Linked DNA regions of Homo sapiens: all the other regions are reported to be linked to region 3. The links are microRNA targets in miRTarBase. Many come from high-throughput screens and were not tested one by one. Region 3 holds a microRNA gene; each other region holds the end of a gene's coding sequence.

The links. The annotated mature microRNA hsa-miR-323b-5p reads AGGUUGUCCGUGGUGAGUUCGCA and lies in region 3 at 2,725-2,747, shown strand. An mRNA with a match to its seed (bases 2 to 7 or 8) in the 3' UTR can be bound and repressed. Matches are read on the target gene's strand: a 7mer-m8 pairs with bases 2 to 8, a 7mer-A1 pairs with bases 2 to 7 and ends in A, and an 8mer does both.
Region 1: miRTarBase lists STRIP2 as a target of hsa-miR-323b-5p. Seed matches in the 3' UTR shown: 7mer-A1 at 607-613 and 7mer-A1 at 1,035-1,041.
Region 2: the mRNA of RPL41 is a reported target of hsa-miR-323b-5p. Seed matches in the 3' UTR shown: 7mer-A1 at 1,061-1,067.

The regions. Positions count from the first base shown.
Region 1 is chr7:129,485,495-129,489,677 of GRCh38, forward strand. It overlaps STRIP2 (striatin interacting protein 2), which reads left to right. Exons shown (of 21, transcript NM_020704.3): 21 at 85-2,905. The coding sequence ends at 335. Among named protein-coding and RNA genes, the nearest start is that of SMKR1, 15 kb to the right of the region's middle.
Region 2 is chr12:56,116,720-56,120,902 of GRCh38, forward strand. It overlaps RPL41 (ribosomal protein L41), which reads left to right. Exons shown (of 3, transcript NM_001035267.2): 1 at 1-80; 2 at 470-492; 3 at 763-1,248. The coding sequence starts at 69. The coding sequence ends at 805. It overlaps ZC3H10 (zinc finger CCCH-type containing 10), which reads left to right and starts at 1,547. Exons shown (of 3, transcript NM_032786.3): 1 at 1,547-1,599; 2 at 2,369-2,432; 3 at 3,792-4,183. The coding sequence starts at 3,844. RefSeq lists a silencer at 1,222-1,271.
Region 3 is chr14:101,053,509-101,057,691 of GRCh38, forward strand. It overlaps MIR323B (microRNA 323b), which reads left to right and starts at 2,711; the gene lies at 2,711-2,792. It overlaps MIR382 (microRNA 382), which reads left to right and starts at 798; the gene lies at 798-873. MIR134 (microRNA 134) reads left to right here and starts at 1,179; the gene lies at 1,179-1,251. It overlaps MIR668 (microRNA 668), which reads left to right and starts at 1,750; the gene lies at 1,750-1,815. It also overlaps MIR485.

The DNA of each region.
Region 1 (4,183 bases), not on the chromosome of region 3:
TTGGAATCCCATAGACCATGCTCTGTGATAAGAGGAGCAGTGTCTTGCATTGTATGTCTTCTTCTTCCTCTCTTTCCAACACAGACATCGATGCCAGACCATGGGACTTCCAAGCAGAAGAATGTACCTTGAGGGCCAACATTGAGGCTTTTAACAGCCGTCGCTATGACAGACCCCAGGACTCTGAGTTTTCACCTGTGGATAACTGCTTGCAGAGCGTACTGGGGCAGAGGTTGGATCTGCCTGAAGATTTCCACTATTCATATGAGCTCTGGCTCGAGAGAGAGGTGTTTTCACAGCCCATCTGTTGGGAGGAGCTGCTCCAGAATCACTGACTAAGTTCTTGTCAACAAGCATCAATAGATAGAGGTCAGCTCCAATAAACTGTGCTCTGCCTACCCTGTCCATACAGGCGCTGTTACCAGTTCAGGGCTCTTCTGGGGGCTCTTGGGCCTAAAGATGGTGCAAGGGTGGGATCCTGAATCACAATAAAATGATCAACTTGCCCTGGGGTCAGTTGGGTGCCCAGTTGGCCTTGGAAATCTTTTGGTGGATCAATTCTAGACAAGCTCTTTGGTAGGACCTTTTCCTGCTTTAGTCTTGGCTACAACCAGGCTAGACTTTGCTGGCTCTAAAAGAGGAAATTTGTTATGGCATTTGACCCATGGCATTCATCACAGATAGTGGGAGGTACAAGTCATAAAATAGGGAGAAAGTTTTCTTCTTGCTCACACTGGATTCCTAGGACTTATCAGAGATTTGGAAAAACCAACTTTGAAATTAAGTTTGCATTTTAAATTTCAAATTTGGAAGCCTCTTTCTGAAATCATTAGCTCTAAGATTATTTTAGAGCACCTGCACCTTCTTTGTGAAGGATGATGATTTACTATTCCCTCAATACTGCATGTTATCGAAAAGTGTGTTGTGTAAAGTGTTTTTTTCCTCATTCTGTAAGAGATCTATATTCAATGTGAAAATTATTTCCTTGTGTACTCTGTATAGGGCATGGAATGCTCTGCCATTTTTAAAGAGCCACAACCAATATGAAATAATTAGGTCCTCTCTAAGGATGTTTCATGTTTTTCTTAAATGACTCCAGTCTTCAAATGGCTGAGCATACTGCAGAAAATTATCCTTTTCATCTAATTCATTTTTTAAATGACAAGTTAACTACAGGAGGCTTTATTTATTCAGATGGTATGTCCACTTGTGGTCGTGATCAATATATTTTTCTAATTGAAAAGTAAAAGCATCACAGCTTACCATTTTTCTTTTTCTGCAGTGTTGATTAATGATTTTTTTCCCGTTTATTGCTAGCAGTTTCAAAGTGTCATGTGGAGATTTAGCAATACTGTCTCTACTTAAAAGTATTGCACATTTCATTGAAAATGTGAGAGTTGATATACCAGCCTCTTTATATTTCTCTTTTACAGCAGAATCACATACTTCTCAAGATAAACAAGGTTTTTAAAAAAGTTTCTGATTTAGTTAGGATCATATGCTTTTTTTTTTTTTTTTTTTTTTTTTTTTTTTTTTGAGACAGAGTTTCGCTCTTGTTGCCCAAGCTGGAGTGCAATGGCACGATCTCGGCTCACTGCAACCTCCGCCTCCCGGGTTCAAGCGATTCTCCTGCCTCAGCCTCCCAAGGAGCTGGGATTACAGGCACGCACCACCATGCCTGGCTAATTTTTTGTATTTTTAGTAGAAACAGGGTTTCACCATGTTAGCCAGGCTGACCTCAAACTCCTGACCTCAGGTGATCCGCCCGCCTCCACCTCCCAGGGTGCTGGGATTACAGGTGTGAGCCACCATGCCCAGCCTCTTCAAGCTTTTTTACTATACATGTTGCCCCTCTCCCCCAACTTAGGCACTACTGAATTTTTTATGATGGCACCAGGTCACTTTATGCTGGGTGATATAGTCAAAATTTGCTTATTTACTCTGCCCCTCGTCAACCACAGTATCATTTCAAGGACATGAATAAAATACTTGACAGTATCCAAAGGAGCTATACCAAAATCTAACAAGTAAATTTTGGATTTTGCCTCTTTGTGCTTTAAAGTACCAGGATTTCTGTCTCTATGGATAGGTCTTGGAGAATGTTAAGTAATGGATGAAACTTTTTAAAATAATTTGTAAATTTTACCTAAGTAGGACAGTAGTCCTTACTGCAATCAAAATAATTTACTGAGCACAACTCCTGTAAATTAATCTACAGTCAGGCTAGTATGATTTTAATATGATTTGAGTAAAAAGATAATTTTCAAGGAAAGAGTAATCATCCATCAATTTATTATAAAGCCAGATAGTATTCAATTTATGTCAAGAACAAAGAAATTGCCCTTTTAAAAGCATGTACGTGAATGCTTTTTGAGGCACAGAAGTATGCTAAGCTTTAACATTTTGTATTTATTTACAACCCTTTTCTAAGGGAAGGTTACTTCTCAGTGCAGATGGAGAAACTGAAGCACTAAGGATAAATGATTAGTTTCCAATCACATCATTTTTTTCCACAGACTTGCTGGGACTAGCTTTCAGGTATTGACAGCCAGCCCCATATATTAAGGTAACCAGGTTGAATCTTCCAATTTGAGAACCCATGTATGGGTTGCAGTGAGCCGAGATCATGCCACTGCACTCCATCCTGGGCAACAAGAACGAAACTCCGTCTCAAAAACAAAGAAGGATATAATAAAGTTAATATATAAACCATGTATGTGGTTAGGAATAAATTCAAATTCACCAGTCTCCAATGGTGATTACTTTTACTACATAGAAAAACATTTTAGTGACTTACAGAGGATTTTTATTTGTGAATATTTCAGTAAAGTTTGTGTTGATTGTTGATAACACTGTTCATCTACTGAAGCACTTTAATAAAAATAAAATGAGCTGGAATTAGAAATTTGGTGTTTAAATTCTTCAACACAAGAGAAACTCAAAGTCATATAGAAAGGAAGGATATAGGCCGGGCGCAGTGGCTCACACCTGTAATCCCAGCACTCTGGGAGGCCGAGGCAGGCAGATCACCTGATGTCAGGAGTTCGAGACCAGCCTGACCAACATGGTGAAAACCCCGTCTCTACTAAAAATACAAAATTAGCCGGGTGTGATGGTGCATGCCTGTTATCCCAGCTACTGGGAGGCTGAGGCAGGAGAATCGCTTCAACCCAGGAGGTGGTGGTTGCAGTGAGCCAAGATCGCGCCACTGCACTCCAGCCTGGGCAACAAGAACGAAACTCCGTCTCAAAAACAAAGAAGGATATAATAAAGTTAATATATAAAATATTATTTTACCCCCAGAGTGTTCCCTGAGAATAGACTAATACAAGCAATAAACTCCAGATCTTAGTGACTTTTGACAAACGTTTCTTGTTCATGGGTCTAGGAGTTAGCCGCAGCTCTGCTCGACTCACCTTGGCTTGCTTGGCTTGGCTCTGTTCCACAGTCTTCTTTCTCTGGCACTAGACTGATGGAATAGTTCCTACTTGGGACATACACTTTTTATAGTGAAGAGCAGGAGCAAGAGACAAACCATACCATGCAAGCACATTCAGACTCCTGCTTGAATATGGTGTAAATCAAATTGTTCATATACCATTGACCAAAGCAAATCACATGGACAAGCCTAACATGAGACTGGAGAAGCATACTCTACCTACAGAGTGGCAAACATGGATGGTATAATACTCTCATAAGTAGGGAAAGTGAATTGGTCATGAATATCTGCTCCTATATTACACACAACACACAGCCCCTCCTCAAGGAAGACCAAAAATCTTATCCAGTCATGTGAGACCTAAATTCTAGGATCTCATCTAGATGAAGGTGTAGATGAAGTGTTTCTTGATCCTGTGACTTGTTAACTTAAACAACAAGATATATCTACCTAAAATGAACAACAGAGACCAACTCTCCAAAGCAGAGTTTATTTGGGAATAGCAGGGGATTGCAATCTGGGATATGCATGCTATGGCAGACCACAGGCTCATCCAAAGGAGTTGTGGCAAAGGGGAAGCTTTTAAAAACAAAAAGAAGTCCACGTAAACTGTTTTGGAACAAAGACCATTGGTTACAGGGGCTTGTTGCAGAGTTGGCAATAGCTCATGGGTGGAGACATTCATTGTTAGTTGAGTATCCTTGTGTAAGTGACTTATCTGGAATACTGTGGTTTTGAGGAATT
Region 2 (4,183 bases), not on the chromosome of region 3:
GGCACTTAGCATCATCACAGCAAACTAACTGTAGCCTTTCTCTCTTTCCCTGTAGAAACCTCTGCGCCATGAGAGCCAAGGTGAGCGGTTCCTGGTAGTAAGCTTGGGAGGTAGGAGTTGGCGAGTAGTAGCGAGGAGACGAAGGCAAGTCCGCCATACCTCCTGAACTACTGGGTTTCAAGGGTGCCCAAGAGCTGGTGGGAGAGAGAAGGTAGTTTGTGAGAGAGCTAGCGGTTAAGTGCTATGGGTAGAGAGGGTGGGCTTAGAAAAGGGTGGAATTCTGATCTTATGTTGGGAGGGTGTCCAAGTTACTGATGTAGTTGTTACGACCAATCTTTCATACTTCTTGGTTAAGAATCTGTCCGGTTCTAAAGAGTGCATTTCATATCCTTGCTAAGCCTACTAATAAGCTTCATCCCTTTTTTTTTTTTTTTTTTTTAATTATCTGCTGCTTGTGATCGGTTGCTAGTGGAGGAAGAAGCGAATGCGCAGGTACGTTGAGACTTTGCCAGCCCAGGAGGAGGGAAGTTCCTTGGACAAAACTTAGGAGAAACATTTGGTTTGGAAATCTTAAAAGATCTTTAGGAGAAAAACGTTTGAGTGTTTTCTCCCTGGAGCCAGGATTTAACAGAACAGAGAACGATAGAACCGTAGTGCTTGTTCATTTTACCACCTCATTCTTTATGTGGACGTTTGATTTAATGTGGGAGGGAAAGGCAACTCTGGTTTGAGGTGTATTCCATTCCTGTGTCTGCTTTTCAGGCTGAAGCGCAAAAGAAGAAAGATGAGGCAGAGGTCCAAGTAAACCGCTAGCTTGTTGCACCGTGGAGGCCACAGGAGCAGAAACATGGAATGCCAGACGCTGGGGATGCTGGTACAAGTTGTGGGACTGCATGCTACTGTCTAGAGCTTGTCTCAATGGATCTAGAACTTCATCGCCCTCTGATCGCCGATCACCTCTGAGACCCACCTTGCTCATAAACAAAATGCCCATGTTGGTCCTCTGCCCTGGACCTGTGACATTCTGGACTATTTCTGTGTTTATTTGTGGCCGAGTGTAACAACCATATAATAAATCACCTCTTCCGCTGTTTTAGCTGAAGAATTAAATCATCTTGTCTATTATGTTTTTTATGGTTCCATCGGGTGGGGGTTTTCTGTCATTAGAGTTTGCCCTGTCACTACCTGTGCTATGGAGGGTATCAAAGCTATAAAGGCAACAGCCCGGGTTACGTGGTGTGGTTTGCATCTCGCTGGAGTTGGATGGGATATGGTACGTCTCTGGAGGCAGGTTTTAGGTTTCGCGGGTTATTAGGGGCCAATGCTGGTACCGCCCCTTTCCAGGAGGGCTGCCTTGGCGACTACCGCTTAGACCATGTCGTGCCTTTGGGTTGGGTTGCCATAGTGACACGCAAAGCGTGCTGGGAACGCCCTGCGGCATGTCGCACGCGTACTTCATACACCATAGAGTATGGTTCCGGGTCTGCTGGCTAGAGCGTCACTTCTTCCGCAGGAAGCGGAAGAGCGATCGGGTAGGCGGCTCTTTGTCGAAGCTAGAGGACCGGCAGGCGGCAGCAGCAACTACGGCGGCGGCGGCAGGTGAGGGAGGCGGGAGACTTAGGTGGAGGCCGCGCCCGGAGGGGAGGAGTCGGGGCCGGCCCAGCGGCTGGGCTCGGCCAGGCCACAGAAGGCCCCCCAGAACCGAGCTGGCTCGTCCTCACACCCCAGGGCAGTGCCCCTTTTCTGAGTGACCCCGCATCGCGAGCAAACGCCAGCTTCGTGACGTCACAACCCTGCCCATCCCCTCAGCTTGATGACACCTGGAGCTCCAGCTCCCCGCTTCACTTCGCGCGCCCTTAGTGTCCCATTCACGTAGCCCACGGCTGAGCGCCGGCGGCACTGCACGGAACCTGCCAAGCTAGAAGACTTGCTGCGGGAAAACTCCTAGGACTTCTTTCGCAAACTCTAGGGTGTTGGGAAGCGTCACAATCACTGCCTTCAAGTCTAATCGGCCATCCCAATGCACTGTCAGACGCTGCCTTTTTGAGGTTCCTCACTAGCCATTACTAACTCCAGCCCTTGGCGGTGCTCTGACCCTCACATCCTCTTTCATCTTGAGGCAGGGCGCCCCGCACTCTTTGTTCACTCAGGGCTGGTTTTCCAACCCCTCCTCCCAGTCCCTCCGAATTAGTTTTACTCTTCTTACTGGCAACTTCTCCCTTGGACAGGTGAAGTTCAGTTTGAACCCTGAGGAAATCCTCACGTTCTCGAAGCTTTGCCGTTTTGTCAGATTTCTTGTGACAACCACCCCATAGTCCTCCACTCTTACTCCTTCTTCCACCCAAGTCTCTGTTTTTTTCCTGCTCAGAACCCAGCAGTGATGTGGAGGTGGAGACCCACAGGAGCCCCGGACTTCACCTGAGCTACCTCAGGTATCAATTCTGGGAGAGTGGGGTGGGGAGGAGCATCATAACTAATTATCTGCTGCTGGTGCGACTTGCAACGTGAGCCAGGCTTGGATAGATGGCATTTGTACTTCACCTGGTCATTCCCCTTTACTAAAAGTTTGTATCTTCTTTTACCACTTCTTTCCTTGATTGCTTCTATTATTCTGGGACTACCTCTCTTTAGAGGAGGAGGACCCTCTTACAGATTCTCTTGTAACTCTGGCCTCTGGTTTGGTTAGTTCATTTTAGGGAGATCTGAAGGCAAAGTCACAGTAGTGGGGTGGGGGTAGGTCAAGGCCAAAGGAATTAGGAAAGATTCCCTTATTCTCAAAGGGAACAATATGAAGTTTTCCTATTTCAGCAGCAGGGGGAGCCTGAACACCGCATAGGAAAGGCTTGGGAGGTCAGACACGTGGTAGCAGGGACTCCAGGTCTTACTGGGGGTGGAGAGAGGGGAGGGCTAGAACCAGGGCAGTGGACTGACATTCCAAAGCTCTCTTGGGAAATAGGAGACTTAAAAAGCTTTTATGGAGTCTATAAATAAAGAGGATCTTTCTGGGTTGAGGAATGGTGTGGTTGGATGTCAGTGGGATCTTCACATAGGGGAGTAGGAAGGGGGTGGGGAATGGGGAAAGGTCACTTGTTCCTGTGAAATTAACTCCTTCCCACTTGACCTTATCACAAATGGTTTGTCCTAGGAAATCTAGAAGTGGAGACTCTAACTTAGAACTCCTATCCTGAAATAGAAGGGGCTTACCTCTCTGCCGTTGACAGTGATGATGGCTGGGAGGGAATACTAAAATATGACAGGTTTTGAGACTCCCCTCAAGCTGGTGACACCAGTCTCTTCACCCAGGATTTCTTGGCTTCTAGAGATTTGATGTGTACAGAGCCCTTACCTGAGGAAAAGGAAAGGGGGTTAAGGAAGTTTTGTTACCAGTGTCCCATCTTCTACAGCCCTAGTAGCTCAGTAGCCCATCTTGGGCACTATTCCCAGTTTCCTTCCAGACTATTCAGATACTGACTGCAGTTTTAATTTCACTTCCACAACTTTAATAAGGTCAGCTCAAAAGGAAAGATGAATTCCAACACTATTTTTTCCCTGCTCCGTCCTGGGCCTATCCCTCCTCCGTTAGCCAGGCAAGTGTGAATCATTCTGACCCAGACCAGGTGCACAAAACCCTGGGAGGGGCTTTTGATGAGTCAGACATTTCAGCCAGAATTCTTATCCCTTAGATTCTCCATCTCTAAAGCCATTGCCCCTCTGGGCCACCTGCTTTATAGTCAGGAAGAGTGGGATCTCCCTGGAGGACTCCTGTTTGATACAGTTCTCCTCTTTTGTAGTGGTCACCAAGAGTGGCAAGATAAAGAAAACCCTGAGTTGGGCGGGACCAGGATGCCTGACCGGGACAGCTATGCCAACGGTACCGGGAGCAGCGGTGGAGGCCCTGGAGGTGGTGGCAGCGAGGAGGCCAGTGGGGCAGGGGTAGGCAGTGGCGGGGCCAGCTCAGATGCCATCTGTAGAGACTTCTTGAGGAATGTGTGCAAGCGAGGCAAGCGTTGCCGATATCGCCACCCAGACATGAGCGAGGTGTCCAACTTGGGGGTGAGCAAAAACGAGTTCATCTTCTGCCATGACTTCCAGAACAAGGAGTGTAGCCGCCCAAATTGCCGTTTCATCCATGGCTCCAAGGAGGATGAGGATGGCTATAAGAAGACAGGAGAGCTTCCCCCAC
Region 3 (4,183 bases):
ATGTGGGTGGGAATGGAGTGGGGTGGACCAGAGGAAGGTCTGGGGTAGGAGCATTTCAGGAGGAGGGCAAGGCCCATGGAAAGCCCCCTGGCATCTTTAAGAAAAAGCAAGAAGGCCAGTGGGATTGAACCGAGCTGCTGGGAGTCGCTGGGTCTGAGCTGGGAGAGGCAGGACTCCAGGTTTTATTCTGAGTGAGATGGGGGATTTGGAAGGGTTGTGAGCAGGGGGGATGCGTGGTCTGTGTTGGAAAGATCACTCTGACCACAAGGGCATTGATAGAGAATCTACCCAGGGCAGTGATGGGGAACCTACCAGGAGCCTGGCGTGCCTGAGCTGGGCAGTTTCTCTAGGGGCACCTGCAGTGGCAAAAGGGGGCCCCCTCTGGACCTCCCTAGTTCAGTGGGCCCTGCGGGAGCCTGGCTGGCACCTTGATGTGCTTGATGGATAACTCAGTGTGCTCTGTTGAGAAGTCCAAGGCCCTGTTCAGAAACCCTGGGGTCTACACACTGCGGAGTGCTCCTGGCGTGTGACAAGTGGCTTCCCTCTTCTTATTTCTAAACCTTGTGCGTGTGGATTCAGGACCACAATTTCAACTCCAGGGAAGGGGGACTGTGCCAGCACCACTCCAAGGGAGGTGAGTGAAGGGTTGCCCAAACTCCAGTGTGTTCCTAGGACACCCGTAAGCTGCCTCACTAATGCTCGGTGTCCACTCTGTCCACAGGATGGTGGTTGGCAGCCACTCCCCTTGGAGAAGTGGAAGGGGACTCCTTGTCTGTCTTGTCTCTGCTTTTCTGTGGTACTTGAAGAGAAGTTGTTCGTGGTGGATTCGCTTTACTTATGACGAATCATTCACGGACAACACTTTTTTCAGTACCAAATGCTACCTCTAAGGACTTCCTGGACACAATGGCAGCTTCAGGAAAGATAGTCTTTGTGTCAACCATGTGGAAAAGCCAAGAATGGATGGCGGGCCATGGACAATGCGCTGACCTAGCTGTAAGTCACCTGGCCCGATAATCCGAGCCTCCCATGCACCTATAGGAGGTCTTCCCATGGGTCTCACCAACTCTGGGGAATCAGCTGTGGTTCTGTCACCAGCGTCACCTCACAAGACTTTGAAGAGAGGCTCCCTGGGCCCCAGGCCGACTTCCAGAAGAGATGTTGGTGTCAGCACCGTCCAGGGTGTGTGACTGGTTGACCAGAGGGGCATGCACTGTGTTCACCCTGTGGGCCACCTAGTCACCAACCCTCAGCATCACTCCCACTCCAGGAAGACTTTCCAGAGCTCCCACCAACTCTGGGGAAGCGGCCATGGACTTGCTGTGACTGCTTGGTGGACTGCGATGACACGTGCTCTTGGGGGTGTATGTTTACTTAAAATGCAATGAGTCAGCCTTGGCAGCCCCTTCACCACTGTGACAGCCTCCTTGAAGTGTTGACTTCCGATGTGGGACGCCATGTTGTCTTCTGTTGAGGGACCTGATGTGGGCCAGCTTTTCTCCTGGGTGTGTGACTGAATCCTTCTTCCCAGAGCATGTGCTGCCTTTGTTAGGTCTGTCACGTCGTCCTCTAATACCCAGCATCCTGTCTCTCCCTAGGAGGCTCCATGGAGATAATGCGGCTTTGGGAAGCGGCCATGATTCTCCTGTCAGGGACCAGTGAGCTACGCAAAAGCTCCCTGTCTTGTCTGGAAGGACGAACTGCATCCTTGCTGCTGGGGAGAAGGCAGTGCCCTCAGCACTCCCTTAAGGTAAGTGCGCCTCGGGTGAGCATGCACTTAATGTGGGTGTATGTCACTCGGCTCGGCCCACTACCCAATACTATCCCACCCATTCCTAACAGGACTCCCGAGAAGGGCGGCCACCTCTGCCAGAGAGGCAATGGATTTCTCACCAGTGTTCATGTGTGGTACTTGGAGAGAGGCTGGCCGTGATGAATTCGATTCATCAAAGCGAGTCATACACGGCTCTCCTCTCTTTTAGTGTCAAATTCTGCCTCGGAGGGCTTCCTGAGCCAGTGCTGCTTCCAAGGTAGGTTTCTGGATGGCTGACCCCATGGCAAGCATTTTCCTGAGGATGCATGTAACTGACCTACTAACTTTAGAGTCCAAGCTGACCCTAAAACAACTTCCTGGGGCACTACCAACTTTAGGAAAATCGAGAGAGGTTGTTGGGATGCCCTAATTTTTTAAAAGTTAAGATTGAAATACACATGGCTGACTTCTTTTTTTATTCCTATCAAATTCAACCTTGGAGTTGAATCTTGGGCATCTAGAAGCATCTTTTATTAGTCAGCCGTCGGGATACAGAAGAAAACAGGAACAGGACTCTGTGCGACCCCTGGTTTACTAACCCACAGCAGCCTTACACCCTCCAGAGAATTCCTGTAAGGGAATCCCAGGTTTACCAAGGAGGCAGTGCTTAGCCTGCTTTTGCACACACATTTGTGTGTGGTTTGCTTCATATTTAATGACTCCTGTGCCACTGACATCCTTGCATTATTAAATGTTGCCTGCATGGCCAGCTGAGCACAAGAAGTGGTATTTCTGTGCACACTAATCCTGGCTTGGTGAACCTGGGGTTGGCCGGAGAGCATGGGTTTGAGCCACCTGGTCCACTCATCCTCAGGGTCCCATCCACCCTCAGAGGCCACTCCCAAGCTGCCCAGGCTGTGCAGAAGATGCAGGAATGCTGCGAGCAGTGCCACCTCATGGTACTCGGAGGGAGGTTGTCCGTGGTGAGTTCGCATTATTTAATGATGCCCAATACACGGTCGACCTCTTTTCGGTATCAGATCTCACCAGGTGTCTTCTTGGACCTGATGCCGATTTAGGGGACACCATACTCATGTTGGTTCCACACCAGTGCAACTGAACATGTGTGTGGCCCTGGAACCAATGGGTAGGTGCTGCTAGCACTCCTAATCCTCAGCCAGTGCATTCCTGGGGAAGAAGCATGTGATCTGTGCTCAAGACCCCTCTGTGACTGAGGAAGTGGTGGTGCCCATGATGCTTCTGGGGTTTTGTGTTTTTTTTTAAAGAAAAACAATGTATAGTTCTCTTCTCTTTCACTATTAAATCTTACCATGGAGGAAGGACTTCTTAGACATGTTGACAAATTCAGGGAAGGGGCGTTGATTTCAGCATTCTTGGGGACTCACTGGAAGGGTGACTCACCACATCTGTTGATCTGGAGGCCACAGCAAATTTAAGAACAGAAGACAGTTGCATTTTCAATTTCTTGTTTTTCTTTTCAAAAAGGATAATTATTCTACCTTATTACCATATTTATGAAAATGACACATGCTTAATAAAATTCAAGCGATGTGGAAAAATCTAAATGAAAAAGAAGGAAAATTGCCCAATTCTCTGGCACCCAGAAATAACCATTAAGGGCTTTAGAAATTTCATACACCTGTCTGAGCATACATGCAAATAGAAAAACAAGACAGACGCAGGGAAAATATGAGATCACACTGTACCTAATCATTTTATTAAAAATGCTAACTATAATTTTCCTTGAATTTATCATAAAAAACAAGCTAAAGGAGATTGAAATGATTGATAAATGTTTCTCGCTTTACCACCACAGGTAGCAACTCCTAAAAGATCCCTGTAAAATTAAGAAAAATTAGAGTGTAAAAATTAAGTGGTTAGGATTGTTATGGTTTTTAACTATTTCAATTTCACTCCTAGTTCAGAAAGATAAAGAAGTCAGCATTCTTATTCTTCCTTTGCTTACTATCTCCTGCTTTTTCTCAATTATACATTTTAATTTTACATTATAAATATCTGCAATTTGTTCTAGAACTATAATTCTTGCAGGTGTTTTGCCATAGTTCTATATTTAAATGAATTCATTTCTGACCACAAGGTTTGTTTTTTTTTAACTGAGGTTTCTCCGTTCTTTAGTTTTTAAGTTTAATTTATCTCTCAATGGAAATGATCTTATTGTTTCTGTGAGAATAGCTCATAGACACTACCCTTGAGTTCCTGTGCATTTGAGAGTATATATCTCTTTATGCACAAGGGACAGCTTAACTAGGTATAAAAGTCTCAGCCTACTTGTTTTTTCTCAGAAATTTATAGCTATTGTCCACTGTTTTTTGCATTGAGGCTTTCACTAGCTGTCTTAATGTGGCTTCTCCATGTAGCTCTTACTTACCTGGACTATTTTATCTAGCG